Regions from separate parts of the Homo sapiens genome. Here all the other regions are reported to be linked to region 3. The links are microRNA targets in miRTarBase. Many come from high-throughput screens and were not tested one by one. Region 3 holds a microRNA gene; each other region holds the end of a gene's coding sequence.

Region 1 (4,000 bases), not on the chromosome of region 3:
TTTCTAGTGTGGGCTTCTCAAGGTGTCTCCGCCCAGGAGGATTTCGCCATCCATTTAAACGTAAGGCGGGGTTTAATCTGGAATGAAAGGATCGTCGTGGTGTTTCCAGATTGAATGAAAAACTAAACTTGCAAAATTTCGAGAAAGTGACAAGTTTACAACGAAAAAAAATCCCGGCCGAAACCCATTTTCACCTTTGCGGTCATGAAATCTTTTTTCTGGCGTCGATAATTCGAGTATTTAAAGGGAAGTGCAATGACAGTAAAAGTCTGCCTGCAAACTCACATGCCCAGCAGACCCGCCTAGGCATCAAGGGAAGGGCCTTCCCGGAGAGCGAATGGAGATTATTTCTTCCCAATAAATCCAGAAACCTCAGATGACGTGGCTCTCAAATCACCTTCCTCACTGGGTTCCTGTCCTGTACTTAAAGAAATCCTCTCTTCTGGTCTCGAAGCCAAAAGAATTTTTGTATCCCAGAAAAGAGCTCTGCTCACTTAAGAGATCTTCTCGATATTGGAAGTGGTGTCTATTTCCCATTTTAGTTGCAAAATTTGCAATAGAGTTCCCTGTGCTCAAGCTTCCTTTCAGCTTATGTGAGTGGACATCACAGCTCTTTAAACTGACCACTGCTGTAAATCAAGGATTTCCTGTCTCAGCAGCACAATCACAAAATCCACGACTGTCCTAGTGTAAAGAATGTGGCTTTATTCCTTTGCATAACCCAATTTAAGACTCAGTTTTAGAGAAGGCATGAGGCCCACCACTAGGCCAACTGTAAGGCACTGAGTCTTTCCCCAGAACCAGGCCTTTGGAAACAGGACTCAAAAGAAGCAAGTGGCTAAGGAGAAAGTCGTTTTCCTGATTGATGAAACTTCTCCCACCCCTCCCCTTTCTAAATAATAAACTCTGGGGAAAGACTGGAGGGCTGCCTTGTGTTGGTTTCAAATAAATCTTCAATAGGCTCTTTCCTCACCCAGAGAAATGAATCACCCCTGGGAAACAGACGATTATTCCCCCATTTGTCTGCCTAAAACCAGTGGAAACAAGTACCCTCCACTGTAGATGCTAACTTAGGTCTTTCGCCTGGCTGAGAGTGGGGTAGCGATGGGAGGGTAAAAAGGGATGGAGGGGGATGATTTGCATAGAAGAGAAACCCACAGAGATGCTCTGCCTGACAGAGGCAGTACTGGGTAGGCATCAGGGACCCAGGAAAGACAGGGCAAACGCAAATGCTTCCTAGACGTGCTCTCCTTGCTGGATTCTAGAAAGAGACCACAAGCCTCCCCCCATTGGAGAGGAGCTTTGGCCTCAACCAACATCTAGGTGATGTTACAACTTATTCAGAAGCAAATCCTGGGGTGTTGCATTTCAATCAGGGTTCTATTTTCTTCAGAGGGAAATGGAGGCTTGTGTTGTTGGGGCTATCCTCACTACAGCTCGATTTATTGTCCCCTTTAAACAAATAGACAAAACTGTCTTGCTGGATTACTCCTGCTTAGACAAACCATTTAGAAGTGTTATGGCGGGAGGTGAAAAGAGAAAAGTAGTTTATTAAAATGACTCCCGTTTTAGCTGACTTTTTTGTAGAAGATGCCCAATGTATATAGCTAATCAGACCAGCAATCTTCTAAGGGAAGAAAGAAGGGAGGATTCTCGCTATAAATCTGCAAGATTCTGAGACTTGGGTGGTGGTTTGACTCACCCGGAGCTCACCTTACAAAGCAGAGAAGCCTTCCCTTTCTCTGTAGGCCATGCTTCCGAGGGTGCAGGCAAGCAGGGTGAGTATTTGACTATTTTCTAAGACCACTCTTTGTTGACTTTTAAAATGTATACTAGATTTTAACATGGGGGGAAAAGCACAAGTTCAATTTAAAGTGAAAAGAAGTTAACGTACTGCTTCATCCTTGTTTGTTGCCAACACAGTCATCGTAGTGACACTCCACCTCTCATTTCCTGCCACTTTAAGTTTCCAGATTACTTTTTAAAATTCAATTCTCGAGTTTATGAGGGTCTGATTACTGCAGAGAAATGAGCTCAAATAGCATAATACTATGAATGTGGGCAATGCCCGCTTGAAGGACATTTAGTTCCAAAAATCAGCACCAATTTACCCATCCTGTTTACTTGTACGTAATCACGGAAAACCTTCACATCTGCCCACCCATCCAAATTCCTCACCCAGATACACCTTACCTGGTCCACGTGTTTCCTATCCCACTACCCCCATCTGCTAAGATTTTAGGCAAAGGCAAAGCCACGATTTAAAGGTTCTTTTTTATTTGAAATCTCATCCAGAAACACTGGTTATTAATAAATATATCATAGTTATCAAGAATATATAAAAAATAAAGACAGGTATCGTCTTTGAGGCCCTAACAAAATATTTCAAGCAAATGTTCAGGAAAATAAAAACGGCACCCCTCCCAAAACCAGGATAAGTTTTCAAAGCTGATAATAGAGAGAGCCAACCCCGCATGCAGAATAACTGAGCGAGGGGGGGTGGCGCAAGCTACTAGAGGGAGCCCAGGCTTTTACAATAGCGGCCCCAGAACAGCAAAGGAAGGTTCCGAATAAAGTTTGAAGGGGGTGGGGGTGGGAGAAGAAGCGCGTGTGCGTGAGTGTGGGTCTTTGCACTCTGCCCCTTTTTTCATTTCATACAACCACAGACAGATATATGGAGTACTTGGGATAATTCACTAATAAATCCTTGTTACAAGGAAAACGGCACCACAGCCTGCACGACATATTCAGACAAGATTCATTTAGAAGCGTGCATGCATTCTTTTGACCTACACTGCGTCGAAAGGAAAACCCACATAGGAGGTGTCATGCCCTGGACCTCGGTTGAGATTCAAAACTTGGGTCTTGATCTCTCTCGCGCTCTCTCTCTCTTTCTCTCTCCATTGTCTCTAGAAAAACTGTGGCAAGGACAGAGACAATCATAATCGCATCCATCTCAAGAAAATATTTACATTTGTTTTGCACAAAAGGGATGGCCGTCTTTTTCCAAAGCGAGAACACAGAGTCAGAGAAAGCCAACTCAAAAGTCCCTTCGCAAGTTTTTAACTACACCGATCCCATCTTTATACAACAAATGCAGTTTTGACAAGAGCATATGGCAGTGAAAAATACTGGCGCGGCATGGGGAAAAGAAGCATGCATGCAAAACACACGACATCTGGTTCGAGTCCCCCTTTGCTACCACCTAGAAATTGCGGTTTGATTTTGGTCCTTTCCCTCCGGGGGTCAAGTGGAGTCTGAGATCTCTCAGACAGCGTGGGAGGCTGCGGGCCCCGGAGCCTGCCCTCCCGTGGGCCGAGCGTGCAGCCTCCCTCTTCCCTCCCGGCCCGGCACCGCGGCCCCTCCCGCCGCTCTCCCTCCTCCTTGGCAGCCGGGCCCGCCCGCTGCTCACTTGAGCAAGTCCTTGGACTCGGCCGACAGCCGGGCCATGTTGGCTGTGGAGAGAGCGGACAGGTGCGGCGGCGGCGGCATCTGGCAGATGGTGCAGGGGCAGGGCAGACCAGCCCAGTGCTGGAAGCCGCTGCCCAGCTGCAGCGCGGGCGGCGTGGAGGGCGCCTTGAGTAGCGAGTGGGGAGGCCGGATGGTGCCGATGGCGGGAAGTGAGGCGGCGGACAGCGGTGACGAGGCGTTGCCAGATGAGAGCGCGCCGCCCAAGATGGGGTGCACCGGGTGCACGGAGTTGGCCGCGTGCGCGGGGTGGCCGGCCGAGTGGCCCACGGTCCCGCAGTGAAAGGCCGAGTGGTGGCCCCCATAGATCTCGCCAACCAGCCTCTTCATCTCCTCCAGGGAGCTGGTGAGCATGAGGATGTAGTTTCTGGCGAGCAGGAGTGTGGCGATCTTGGAGAGCTTGCGCACCGACGGCCCATGCGCGTAGGGCATGACTTCGCGCAGCCCGTCCATGGCTAGGTTCAGGTCGTGCATCCGCTTGCGTTCGCGTCCGTTGATCTTCAGCCTCAACTGCTGTAGGTCCTGCTCCGAC
Region 2 (4,000 bases), not on the chromosome of region 3:
AAGGAAATAACAGAGGACACAAACAAATGGAAGAACATTCCATGCTCATGGATAGGAAGAATTGATATCATGAAAATGGCCATACTGCCCAAAGTAATTTATAGATTCAATGCTATCCCCATCAAGCTACCACCGACTTTCTTCACAGAATTGGAAAAACTACTTTAAATTTCATATGGAACCAAAAAAGAGCCTGCATAGCCAAGACAATCCTAAGCAAAAAGAACAAAGCTGGAGGCATCACACTACCTGACTTCAAACTGTGCTACAAGGCTACAGTAACCAAAACAGCATGGTACTGTTACTGAAGCAGATATATAGACCAACGGAACAGAATAGAGGCCTCAGAAATAATGCCACACATCTACAACCATCTGATCTTTGACAAACCTGACAAAAACAAGCAATGGGAAAAGGATTCCCTATTTTATAAATGGTGCTGGGCAAACTGACTAGCCATAGGCAAAAAGCTGAAACTGGATCCCTTCCTTACATCTTATACAAAAATTAACTCAAGATGGATTAAACACTTAAACATAAGACATAAAACCATAGAAACCCTAGAAGAAAACCTAGGCAATACCATTCAGGACATAGGCATGGGCTAAGACTTCATGACTAAAACACCAAAAGCAATGGCAACAGAAGCCAAAATAGACAAATGGGATCTAATTAAACTAAGGAGCTTCTGCACAGCAAAAGAAACTATCATCAGAGTGAACAGGCAACCTACAGATGGGGAGAAAATTTTTGCAATCTATCTATCTGACAAAGGGCTAATATCCAAAATCTACAAAGAACGTAAACAAATTTACAAGAAAAAAAACAACAACCCCATCAAAAAATGGGTGAAGGACATGAACAGACACTTCTCAAAAGAAGACATTTATGCAGCCAACAAACTTATGAAAAAATGCGCATCATCACTGGTTATTAGAGAAACACAAATCAAAACCACAATGTGATACCATCTCACCCCAGTTAGAATGTTGATCATTAAAAAGTCAGGAAACAACAGATGCTGGAGAGGATGTGGAGAAATAGGAATGCTTTTACACTGTTGGTGGGAGTATAAATTAGTTCAACCACTGTGGAAGACAGTGTGGTGATTCCTCATGGATGTAGAACTAGAAATACCATTTGACAAAGCAATCTTATGACTGGGTATATACCCAAGGAATTATAAATAATTCTACTATAAAGACACATGCACACATATGTTTATTGCAGCACTCTTCACAATAGCAAAGTGTTGGAACCAACCCAAATCCCCATCAATGATAGACTGGATAAAGAAAATGTGGCACATATACACCATAGAATACTATGCAGCCATAAAAAAGGATGAGTTCATGTCCTTTGCAGGAACATGGATTAAGCTGCAAACCATCATTCTCAGCAAACTAACACAAGAAGAGAAAACCAAACGCCTCATGTTCTCACTCATAAGTGGGAGTTAAACAATGAGAACACATGGACACGGGGAGGAGAAAATCACACACTGGAGCCTGTTAGGGGGTGGCGGACTGGGGGAGGGATAGCATCAGGAGAAATACCTAATGTAAATGACAAGTTGATGGGTGCAGCAAACCAACAATTCACATGTGTACCTATGTAACAAACCTGCATGTTGTGCACATGTACCCCAGAACTTAACATAAAATAAATTTTAAAAATCATAAAGCTATTGAGATGATGAAAAATAAAAGATAGTGTTACCCTTAGTAAATAAAACTGAGTTGTAAGAAAGGAGAGTTATTTGTTTGTTTGTTTGTTTTGTTTTTTTTTAGTAGAGACAGTGTTTCACCATGTTGGCCAGGCTGATCTCGAACTCCTGACCTCAAGTGATCCACCCGCCTTGGCCTCTCAAATATTGGGATTACAGGCATGAGCCACCGTGCCCGGCCAGAGGGGAGAGTTATCAATAGGAGGCAAAACAGAGTCATCACACCAAAAATGCATTAAACAGAGTCATATATTTATTTCAAAACATTAAGTTGACTTCCCATTAATAAATACTTTAACACTGAGTGTAGAAAAACTTGTGCATATTCTATAAAGATAATTTATTAAAGAATCAGAGAAAAAGACAGTTCTTTACCTCTAGGCTATTGATAAAACCATCTGGGAGTGGGAACAGCTTCAGGAATGTTACAGGGGAATTGAGGGAGGGCAAGAGAGGATTTGATAAAATGAGGAAAAATGTTCTACTCTCCTTTCTTTCCTGGAGCCTTAAAATTAAAAATCTGGAATTGAAAAATATACTTTCACACACATATCTGCTTCAATGGGTGCTGTCTTTCTCAATTTTGGAGAAGAATCACTAGTTAGTGGTCAGGGTCAAAAATTGCAAATAAGTTCCCAATTTTAGTCTAGGTTAGATCACTCTGGTTAATCATAGGGCCATGATGCCCTCAGAACTCAAGCAGGAGCTGCTGCTACTTGTGCTTAAAGCTGAGGCACGAACGCAATATCATTTACTGGAGAACTGAAGATGCTGCGCAATGCTAACAGCCCCTCTCAGAAGTTCTGTGTGGCTCTGAGTCCTTACAGTGCAGTTGTTGTATTAACCCATCATCCAGTGAGCTGGCCAGTAGTTCAGCCCCTCCACTTGCTGCAGCTGCCGCAAGACACATTCACCAGGCAGTTGCCCAGGCCTCTCACCCATGGGGGGAACACATCTGGCCACTTTTTTTTTTCTGTAAACCTCAAATGAAACAGAATCTCACAGATGTGGGGTCCCCCTCCTAATTGTAATAAACGTTAGAGAAATGCTCCAGAAAGGAACAAAGGGAGACCCTCTCAGATCAGCCTAAAACCAGAGTGGAATAGGGCTCCTCTGGGCGGTTTAAGGGCACAGAAAGGACCCTCAGCTACTCCTGGCCTCCCCAGGTCTCTTTCCCAGAAGACACAACTTTCCAGGCTGCCAAAAGTAATAGAAGTCAAAACCCTCAAAACCACCACTGCTCTCGGGAAGTTTTTGAGTAGGATGAGGAAGAAAGAAGAGAGCCCTCCTTCATTTTGTTACACGATCTCAAGGCCAAGAGCAAGTAGAAGATGTCTAAAGAGAACAAAAGAGGTTTCTTCCTGGTACTGTACTACAGATCAGCAACAGTTTCACAGGGAGGCGTTGGCTCAGGTTCTGGTACATTTGAAGATAACTGAAGGCCAAGACTTAGCCAAGGAAGGACACCAGCAGAACAACTAGATACACTATCACTACTGCGAGTGTTAGAATCATGGGGCAGATTTTTTTTTTTTTTAAGCTAGGGGGACCTCAGGAATCTACTAGTTGAATTTCTTCATTTTCCAGAAGAGGCCCTGAGGCCTGGAGAGGGCAAGCAGCCTACTGAGGCTGCACAGCTTGTTATATCTGCTTGGGGGTCATGGATAGGGGCAGAGGGGCTGCAGTGAGCAATACAATGCAGGGGAACCTTGCACACCACATGGTGAGTTACATTCAGACCCCCCTGCAAATGAAAACTTCCCACCCCTGGGCTGTTTCCCGTTGATTTGTCACAGAAGTGGACAGGTCCTGGACTGAGCTTGTCCATGGGCTTCCCTCAGGAGGGGAGGAGGAATGCAGGAGTCTCTTTACTTCCCAGTTCGGGAGGCCATCTGGATGGCTCTGATCCACTCTGTGCGCTCCTTGGGGGTGGCTGCTTGCAAGAAATAGTGCACTTCATCTGCTGTGATGATCTCAAAAAGGTTCTCTTCCTCACTCTTCCTGCCTGGGGAAAGAGAAGGCAAATGGCAGCACGCACAGGCATCAGAAAGACCACTTGCTCCACCCTCCTCTGCAAGCCATGAAATCTCTGTTTTCTTCGTGTTCTAAGGAAATTGACTATGTGGCTTTCAAACATACAAACAAGGTATGATTATAGGATAATTCATTGCACAGTTATATACATAGTATTGATAGAGTAGATACATAGTATGACTGTGTGTATATATATATTTTTAAGAAATAGGTAAAACACTTAAGGAGAAACATTTTCTT
Region 3 (4,149 bases):
AGTGTAAGGGGCCCAGCTGCTGCCCTCCACCCCACTCCCACACCAGAGTAAAGGAGGACAACAAGGGAGTGGGGCCTGACACCAGGAAACAGGGATGACACTTATAGCCCACTAGCTGCAAGGGGCATGAGTGGTACTCAGAAGAGCCACCTCACTGTGCTATAGGTACCACTCTCCGCACATTACACACGACTCAAAAGTAGTAAAGAAGACTTTCAGGTTTTCAGGTTCTAGAGACTCACAAGTATTTTCTTTTTTTTTTTTTTTTTTTTTTAATTTTCAGGCAGAACCTCCCTCTGTTGTCCAGGGTGGAGTGCAGTGGCACATTCTCGGCTCACTGCAACCTCCATCTCCCAAGTTCAAGTGATTCTCAGCCTCCCAAGGAGCTGGGATTACAGGCACGTGCCACCACGCCCAGCTAATTTTTGTATTTTTAATAGAGACAGGGTTTCACCATATTGCCCAGGCTGGTCTCAAACTCCTGAGCTCAAGCAATTTGCCTGGCCCGGCCTCCCAAAGTGCTGGGATTATGGGTGTGAGCCACCGCACGTGGTCCATATTTTCATTTGAAACATAAAAATAGCCTTGGCATTCCTTAATTACTCCTCTCTCCTCCTTATGAGGAGAAAGAACAGATTTACTGGAGATCCAGGCAATAACAGGCTCTTAAAGAACTTGAAAACAAGATTACTGAGCCCTGTTGAACCAATCACACAAAAGTCTTGGTGCAGAATTTATAGGTCAGTGGGTACAAGTTAAGGCTACCTCTCCAGAGGTTCAATGGTACCCAATGCACCCATCTGCCTCATACCATCTCCACTCACCTAGACCTCTTTTGATCACATTCTCCCCTCCCTTTACATTCACCCAGAAGCCAATGGTTTGATAAGGAGAGGACATCACATTTATGTTGTCCACTGTTTTGTGACTGAGTTTTTTCAACTATTATGGTGCCATCTTTCAGTATTTATTACAGCCTATACACATACAAAAAATGTGAACATCTATACAAGATTTGAATATAAATAATTACCAACTACAAACATTTTAAATATCCAGAAATTTTTATCCCTCAAGTTAGAGAAAAAGACAATGTTTTAATTTATAAAAGGCCAACTCTCTGATCATCATAAAAACACAGCTCACAGCCTTGATCTCCTGGGCTCAAGCTGGTCTCAAACTCCTTCCTGGACTCAAGTGATCCTCTTGCCTCAGCCTGCCAAAGTGCTAGGATTATAGGCATCAGCCACTGTGCCTGGCCTAATGTGCCTTATTTTTAAGTATGCCTACCATTAAACTTTTACTTTAAATTAATATACTTGGTTTGGACTTGAAAAAAATAAAATAAAACCCAAGGAAAACAATAAAAAGAGCAAGCCTCATCTTTGGAGTACGTTCTTTCCAAATATAAACTCCTAACCCGGAACTTACTGCACTGTCTTTCATAACCAGCCGTTTATGAGATGTCAACAGCTTTTCCAAAGGGTAAACAACTCGCCGCAGGTAACTCTCATCCTTGTGGTTATCATACAGCCACTGAGCATCAAGCACATCATGCATTGTCACCATGTGGTCCTGAAAAGCAGCCATGTATGAAAATAATTCAGTTTATTTGTATCTCAGCCCATCAGACCCCAAACTTCCTAAAACTGAATGTCACTTGTTTACTAGTCCAAGCTCATTATGTCTTCAGCCTCTTCAGTCCTGGCTCTTCCAGGCATCTTTTTTTTTTTTTTTTTTTTTTTTTTGAGACGGAGTCTCGCTCTGTCGCCCAGGTGGGACTGCGGACTGCAGTGGCGCAATCTCGGCTCACTGCAAGCTCCGCTTCCCGGGTTCACGCCATTCTCCTGCCTCAGCCTCCCGAGTAGCTGGGACTACAGGCGCCCGCCACCGCGCCCGGCTAATTTTTTTTGTATTTTTAGTAGAGACGGGGTTTCACCTTGTTAGCCAGGATGGTCTCGATCTCCTGACCTCATGATCCACCCGCCTCGGCCTCCCAAAGTGCTGGGATTACAGGCGTGAGCCACCGCGCCCTCTTCCAGGCATCTTTAACCGTTGAAGTATTAGACCCCAAGCAGGCATTTTTGTAGGCTGGGAGGCAAATGAATAGAATAATACTTTCTACCCAATCATCTCCCTTAGCCCATTTTAATGTCCCAAAGTTTAATTAACAGAACAGGGAAGCTGCCCTGGACTGAACTCAACACTTTGGAAAGCATCTTTCCCACGACATGAAGCAAGTGGAGTGCCATCAAAGGCTGGCAGATGGTAAGAACCAGCTCTAAAACTTCTAGCCCCGTAACACATACCTTTTCACTCATGACTCCAGAACGAACCCTCCGAAGCTCCTGCATCTGACCACCAACTCCCAATAACAAACCAAGGTGCACACATAATGTCCGAATGTAGGTGCCAGCCTCACAACTCACCCAAAAGATTCCTAAGATACACACACACAAAAGAAAAGCAGCACCTACTGTAAATACATCACTGGTTGAGAAATGCAGTTATCCTTCATCTGAGCCACCAAGACTAGAGGTGACAGACACACTTCTTAAAATATAAGCATTTGCTGTAAAGATCTGTAATTCTGGCCAGGCACGGTGGCTCACGCCTGTAATTCCAGCACTTTGGGAGGCAGAGGCGGGTGGATCACGACGTCAGGAGATCAAGACCATCCTGGCTAACATGGTGAAACCCCGTCTCTACTAAATGTACAAAAAATTAGCCGGGCATGATGGCGGGCGCCTATAGTCCCAGCTACTTGGGAGGCTGAGGCAGGAAAATGGTGTGAACCCGGGAGACAGAGTTTGCAGTGAGCCGAGATCATGCCACCGCACTCCAGCCTGGGCGACAGAGCGAGACTCCGTCTCAAAAAAAAAAAAAAAAAAAAAAAAAGATCTGTAATTCTGATATTAGCAGAATTTTTAACACTTAAGTTGCAGGTATATTCAGCATGGTATGTTTCATGGATGGGAGGAAAATTGGCATTGTCTTAAATTTACTTCTGACAACAGAAACTTCTAAGCAGTCAAAATTGCAACAAATAAAAAACACATGCAAAACATACTTTGGTGAAAACACTTACCTTTGAACAAAGCACCGAACTACACAAATGCAGAATGAAAACATTTCAACTCCAGCAGAAGCAGTCATCATAAAAGGTGTAAAAGCCATCTCACTTTACTAGGCACTGTTCACTTTTTCAACAAAAGATAACAAAAACTATCGCCCACAGACAATATCCCAGCTGTAGGGCAGGTTTTAGAAAGTCTTCAACTTCAAGGGCATCTACTTTTAATAAGAGAACAGAATCCTGAAGAATGTGTTCATACCCACTCACAGGCCTAATGACTCACCTAATCTTCTTTCAGGATCGTATTCAATCATTTTGCTCTCGTAGATGGTCCTCACTCGGAGCTGCCTCTTTACTGCAGCAATAAGTGGGGGTCGCTGGAATAAGGCACCTGTCAGAGTTTCTAGGGCCTAAGAACAAACACAAATGAAAACAAACACCTCATCAGAATGTACATGTGCAGTCACTGGTCCAGGCTGGCTGCAGCAGCCGACTGAAAAGGGGACAAAAGGAGTCAGTCAGGACAGCTAACCCATCTCCAGATGTTTAGGGGCTCAGAGATCCAAGTCAACAAAGGGTGTCCTCCCTACAATTGCAGACTTACCCTAGAAAGCTGGGTCCCCCCTTCAATAGCATTGTGCAGCCGGACAATCCCCACATACTCTTTGCCTGAAAAATGACAAAAGAGTAGTCAGGTGTGGCCACTGAGTTTTCTGTTTTCCATATTTCTTATATGCTCAGTCACTCCCATTTTGCACAGCAGGAAAAGCGGCAGTTTGACCTTGTGTTTCTATAAAATTTGCATTAAGAGAGATTTCATGGTGATGATGTGGGAAAGAATGAAGACACTTTCTCACTGGGAATTCAATGTACTAACAGGGACAGTTGGGAGTACTCAGTGTAGAAGCTGCGTGGAAAAAGCCTTGCAAGATAAGCAGGCTTTTCTCAGATAAAAATGAACGAAGGATACTTTAGGCAGAAGCGGTAGCACAGAGTGAGAAGCCTGGAGTGACAAGCTGAGAGCTGAACCCGGACAAATGGATCCAGTCAGCTTGATGAATACATGCTTAGTA
Region 4 (4,000 bases), not on the chromosome of region 3:
GAAAGAGGGACCAGGGAATGCAAGACACATCCGTCGTTTTTGGTCCTCTCAAAGCTGGGTACCAGGCAGTAAGGTCATTGCTGATAAATCCATTTTGGCTTTGAGAACCCCCTAATCCAACAGTCATATCCACACAGCTTTCCAAGTGGGGCCAAGGGGTACGCACGCCTTGGCTGACCTGGACTTAACTGGCACTACAATAACCTCATTTAGCAATAAGGGCTTTAGGGTGATGTGGTTAGTGTTTTCTTTATCCTCTTTCTCCTTTCATTCTTTCACTTCCCTAACTCCTCCCATATTTTGTGTAAATGCTAATTCTTCGATCAAATTCCTTATTCCTGTAATGTTTGTAGTAGCATTTTTTTTTTCATGGCTACATTCCATTGACTCTACCTCACACTGACATGTTTTGCTACCAGAAGTGGTAGCAGAGACACAGAATCTTAAGGATGGAAATCTGGAATTTGTTCTCTGATCTGACTGGATTAAAAAGCAATAATGTTTCCATTGCCAAGGTAATTGACAGTCTATGGTAAAAGTTACTTATCACTTGTAGTCACTTGGTTTGTTAACTAATGCCCAGACACAGGGTTTACTTATATTAAATCAAAGTGAAATGCCAGAATACCCTTCCTTGGTATACAGGGAATGGTATCAAGGACATAGAAATTTTGGGGTGAAATTATTATACATAACTTACTCACTCACATCCTATCTTCTCTGGAAGGATCCAGAGGACACTCTCTTCATTAAGGCTTTAAAAAAAATCATCGGCAGGAGGTACCATTCTTGAAAGGCTCTAATGGCCAATATCACAGGTCAGGAATGATAGTAAAGGATACTCCCATTGAAATTGGCTCCTGGCCGGGTGCAGTGGCTCATGCCTGTAATCCCAGCACTTTGGGAGGCTGAGGCGGGTGGATCACCTAAGGTTGGGAGTTCGAGACCAGCCTGACCAACATGGAGAAACCCCGTCTCTACTAAAAATACAAAATTAGCCAGGCATGGTGGTGCCTGCCTGTAATCCCAGCTATTCGGGAGGCTGAGGCAGGAGAATCACTTAAGCCCGAGAAGCTGAGGTTGCGGTGAGCCAAGATCGTGCCATTGCACTCCAGCCTGGACAAGAGTGAAACTCCATCTCAAAAAAAGAAATTGGCTCCTTAAATTCAATGAAGATGACGGGAGTTAGGATGTAGTTAAGGCACAAGTGGACAGATTTAGCATCCAGAAACAAAGAGAGTTTGGTTACCATAACTGGCAGCAGAGCAAGATGGTAATCAAAATGGTTTCACCCACAGAAATCTTTAGGGTTAACTGATAGTGGTGCCCCTAGAACTGAAATAGAGAAGCAGGATATTAAACTTTTCTTAACATATGAAAAAAGCAAACTGTAGGTCTAGTGAATAAAGGTCTATTTTTAATTACAAGCCACAGCTTCTTATCCAGTTTTTAGATTTAAATCAGCTTAGATCATTGACATTTAATTATTGCTGTATTAATGAAATAAAATAAAATTTAGGTTTACTATTGTTTTATTCTGTTTCTCGTTCCTGGGTTACCTGAATCTTTTTTAGTATTCCACCTTAATTTATTAATGCTTTTGAAAATAATCTGTAGTTTTTTAGGGAAAAATCTGTGTCGCTCTAGGGATGATACAAATACTTAATTTCTTATAGTCTACTGTATAGTATTAATATCTTGAGGTTAGCAGTTTGGCATTAGCCTGGGCAACAGAGTGAGACCCCATCTCTAAAAAAAAAAGAAAAAAAAAATTAGCTGGACGTGGTAGTACATGCCTGTAGTCCCAGTTACTGAAGAGGCTGAAGTGGGAGGATCACCTGAACCCAGGGTGAAGCTGCAGTGAGCCATGATCACAGAACTGCACTTCAGCTTGGGTGACAGAGACTTCACCTTAAAAAAACAGAAACAAGAACAACAAAAAAAAACTGTATATCCTCTACAGAGAATCACATACAACAACGTTAATTTTTTTCTTTCAAATAACAAATGTAATTTTTAAAACCTCAAGAGAAGTCTATTATATTTACCCTATACATTATGCCTTCTTTATTCCTGCCATTCTAAGTTTCCTTCTGCTATAACTTCCCTTCTTTTTAAAAAGCTTCCCTTGAATTCTTTTAGAGCAGGTTTACTAGTGATAAATCCTGTTAGTTTTCCCTCATTTGAAAAATGTCTTGACCTTTTCTCTTTGTACCTTTTTGACTCCTTTATAATACTTAGGTACTTTGAATAAGTTTTCTGACTGAATCTTCTCTCCCCCCAAAACTATAATGAAGAGTACAGATTTATGCCAAATATCTGATAGCAAAGTGTTTTTAATAAACATCAATTAAAATACAGTTAAAAGTTCAAAAATTTTCTATGACTAGCCAATAAATTGCTGCAACTTTTACAGCTAACGCTGGTGTTCCTGAAATTTGAAACATAGTACTTTTCAAGAACTGTGGAAAAGCTTGATTACAACAAAAATAACAGGCAGAGTGTTCTATTGTTCCTGTTTTCTCCTGAAACTTAAACTCTGAATAGCAACAGATTGCAGCAAATGTAGCTCAGCATATTCTGAAAAATACAGCCCCAGGAAATAGCTAGTTAAAATGTGGACCACATTTCAATTCCACCTTTCCAGTGGAGATTATCAGTAGACTCAAAGAGATCCAAGGGTTGGATGAATAACCATAGTTGAAAATGCTGACACAAATTATTATTTGGCAATAATAAACTGAGGTGAAATGATGCCAAGTAACTGATGTAGTGGAAGTATGTTCTGGTCTGACTAGAATACAGCAATAAAAGTTGAGAGGTTAATAAGGGCAAAAGAACCTTCAGATAAATGGAGAATGAGAAAGAATTGATGATTCAAAAAACATACTTCATTGTGATGACAAGCAAATTAAGGATGAAAAAAAGCAAGGTGAAAAGAAATAGGAAAAATAGTTCAGGATGTAGAAAAATTCTTTCACAACAGCCAGGAAATTCTCTTGACAGAGGATCTCTTGGTAAAATAAACGTGGAGATGAACTAGAACAGGTATGAGGTTCTAGCAGAAGAAACATTTGCATAAATGTGACTTTCTTATCCAGCCACACTAACTCTATTTCTTAAAAGCAACACAATTTCCAAAACTTTCTTGCTCAAAGCTCAGATTTACACAATGCCACCTCTAAGAGGCAGGACACTAGCCCAAACTAAAATGTCCCTTATGTCTGTTCTTACTGTCTTCTCCTTTGGCTTGAGAGATGTTTTGATTTGTAAAAGTACTGGCCAATACAACAAAATGGAGACATAAATTATGTCATAACAGAATTTTACATATGTTTCCTTATATTATGTTCATTAATGTATTACATGCCTTAATAATTTCACTCAGTTAAAAAATGATGGTATGATGCTTTAAAGCTGATTCAATCATGATTTTATAAGCTTATCAAGAGTGAAAATAGAAGACTATTAAAAATAGCTAAAAAGGTAATGTGTCATAGTGTTTAATGTTTCTGTAATTGTTGGTAAGGCTTGTATCTAAGTCTGATGCAGAATTCTTAATGGCACTCAAACAGTTCTTTTCTCAGCCACATGGTATCCACTGATGCTATGAGTCTGGAAGAGACTGGCTATGGGTACCACTTCTTGTCTTCAGCTGTGACTGTGCAATATCAGCAAGTGCGCTTTGTATCTTCTCCAGAAGCATGTCTCCTCGATAAACAACATCCTCCAGACATGTAGCAGCTTCATGGTTTTCTTCTTCTAGCTTATACAAGCTAGCAGCCTTTATAAGACACAAATTTTAAAATCTTTAGAGTTTAGAAAGAGAAGCTGTCACAGATGTACTTATTTTTAAATCTGGATGACTTTGCAATCATTGTGATATGTTTTTCAGTAAAGAAATTCTAAAAATCAGACAACTTTTAAGAATTTTCCCCATGTGAATTATTAAAAAGAATGACTTTTCAATTAGAGATCTCTAGATATCTTTAAGTGACTC

What was found. The annotated mature microRNA hsa-miR-664b-3p reads UUCAUUUGCCUCCCAGCCUACA and lies in region 3 at 2,086-2,107, opposite strand. An mRNA with a match to its seed (bases 2 to 7 or 8) in the 3' UTR can be bound and repressed. Matches are read on the target gene's strand: a 7mer-m8 pairs with bases 2 to 8, a 7mer-A1 pairs with bases 2 to 7 and ends in A, and an 8mer does both.
Region 1: miRTarBase lists OLIG3 as a target of hsa-miR-664b-3p. Seed matches in the 3' UTR shown: 7mer-A1 at 2,758-2,764 and 7mer-A1 at 2,647-2,653.
Region 2: miRTarBase lists PLEK as a target of hsa-miR-664b-3p. Seed matches in the 3' UTR shown: 7mer-A1 at 3,302-3,308 and 7mer-A1 at 3,016-3,022.
Region 4: the mRNA of MED21 is a reported target of hsa-miR-664b-3p. Seed matches in the 3' UTR shown: 7mer-m8 at 2,180-2,186.

The regions. Positions count from the first base shown.
Region 1 is chr6:137,489,944-137,493,943 of GRCh38, forward strand. OLIG3 (oligodendrocyte transcription factor 3) reads right to left here. Exons shown (of 1, transcript NM_175747.2): 1 at 2,256-4,000. The coding sequence ends at 3,409. Among named protein-coding and RNA genes, the nearest start is that of OLIG3, 2.4 kb to the right of the region's middle. RefSeq lists an enhancer at 3,361-3,860.
Region 2 is chr2:68,395,411-68,399,410 of GRCh38, reverse strand. PLEK (pleckstrin) reads right to left here. Exons shown (of 9, transcript NM_002664.3): 9 at 1,958-3,731. The coding sequence ends at 3,595. Among named protein-coding and RNA genes, the nearest start is that of PLEK, 32 kb to the right of the region's middle.
Region 3 is chrX:154,766,593-154,770,741 of GRCh38, reverse strand. MIR664B (microRNA 664b) reads right to left here and starts at 2,146; the gene lies at 2,086-2,146. It overlaps DKC1 (dyskerin pseudouridine synthase 1), which reads right to left. Exons shown (of 15, transcript NM_001363.5): 6 at 3,681-3,745; 7 at 3,360-3,486; 8 at 2,310-2,440; 9 at 1,432-1,575. SNORA36A (small nucleolar RNA, H/ACA box 36A) reads right to left here and starts at 2,214; the gene lies at 2,083-2,214.
Region 4 is chr12:27,028,069-27,032,068 of GRCh38, reverse strand. MED21 (mediator complex subunit 21) reads right to left here. Exons shown (of 4, transcript NM_004264.5): 4 at 1,396-3,784. The coding sequence ends at 3,608. Among named protein-coding and RNA genes, the nearest start is that of MED21, 7.5 kb to the right of the region's middle.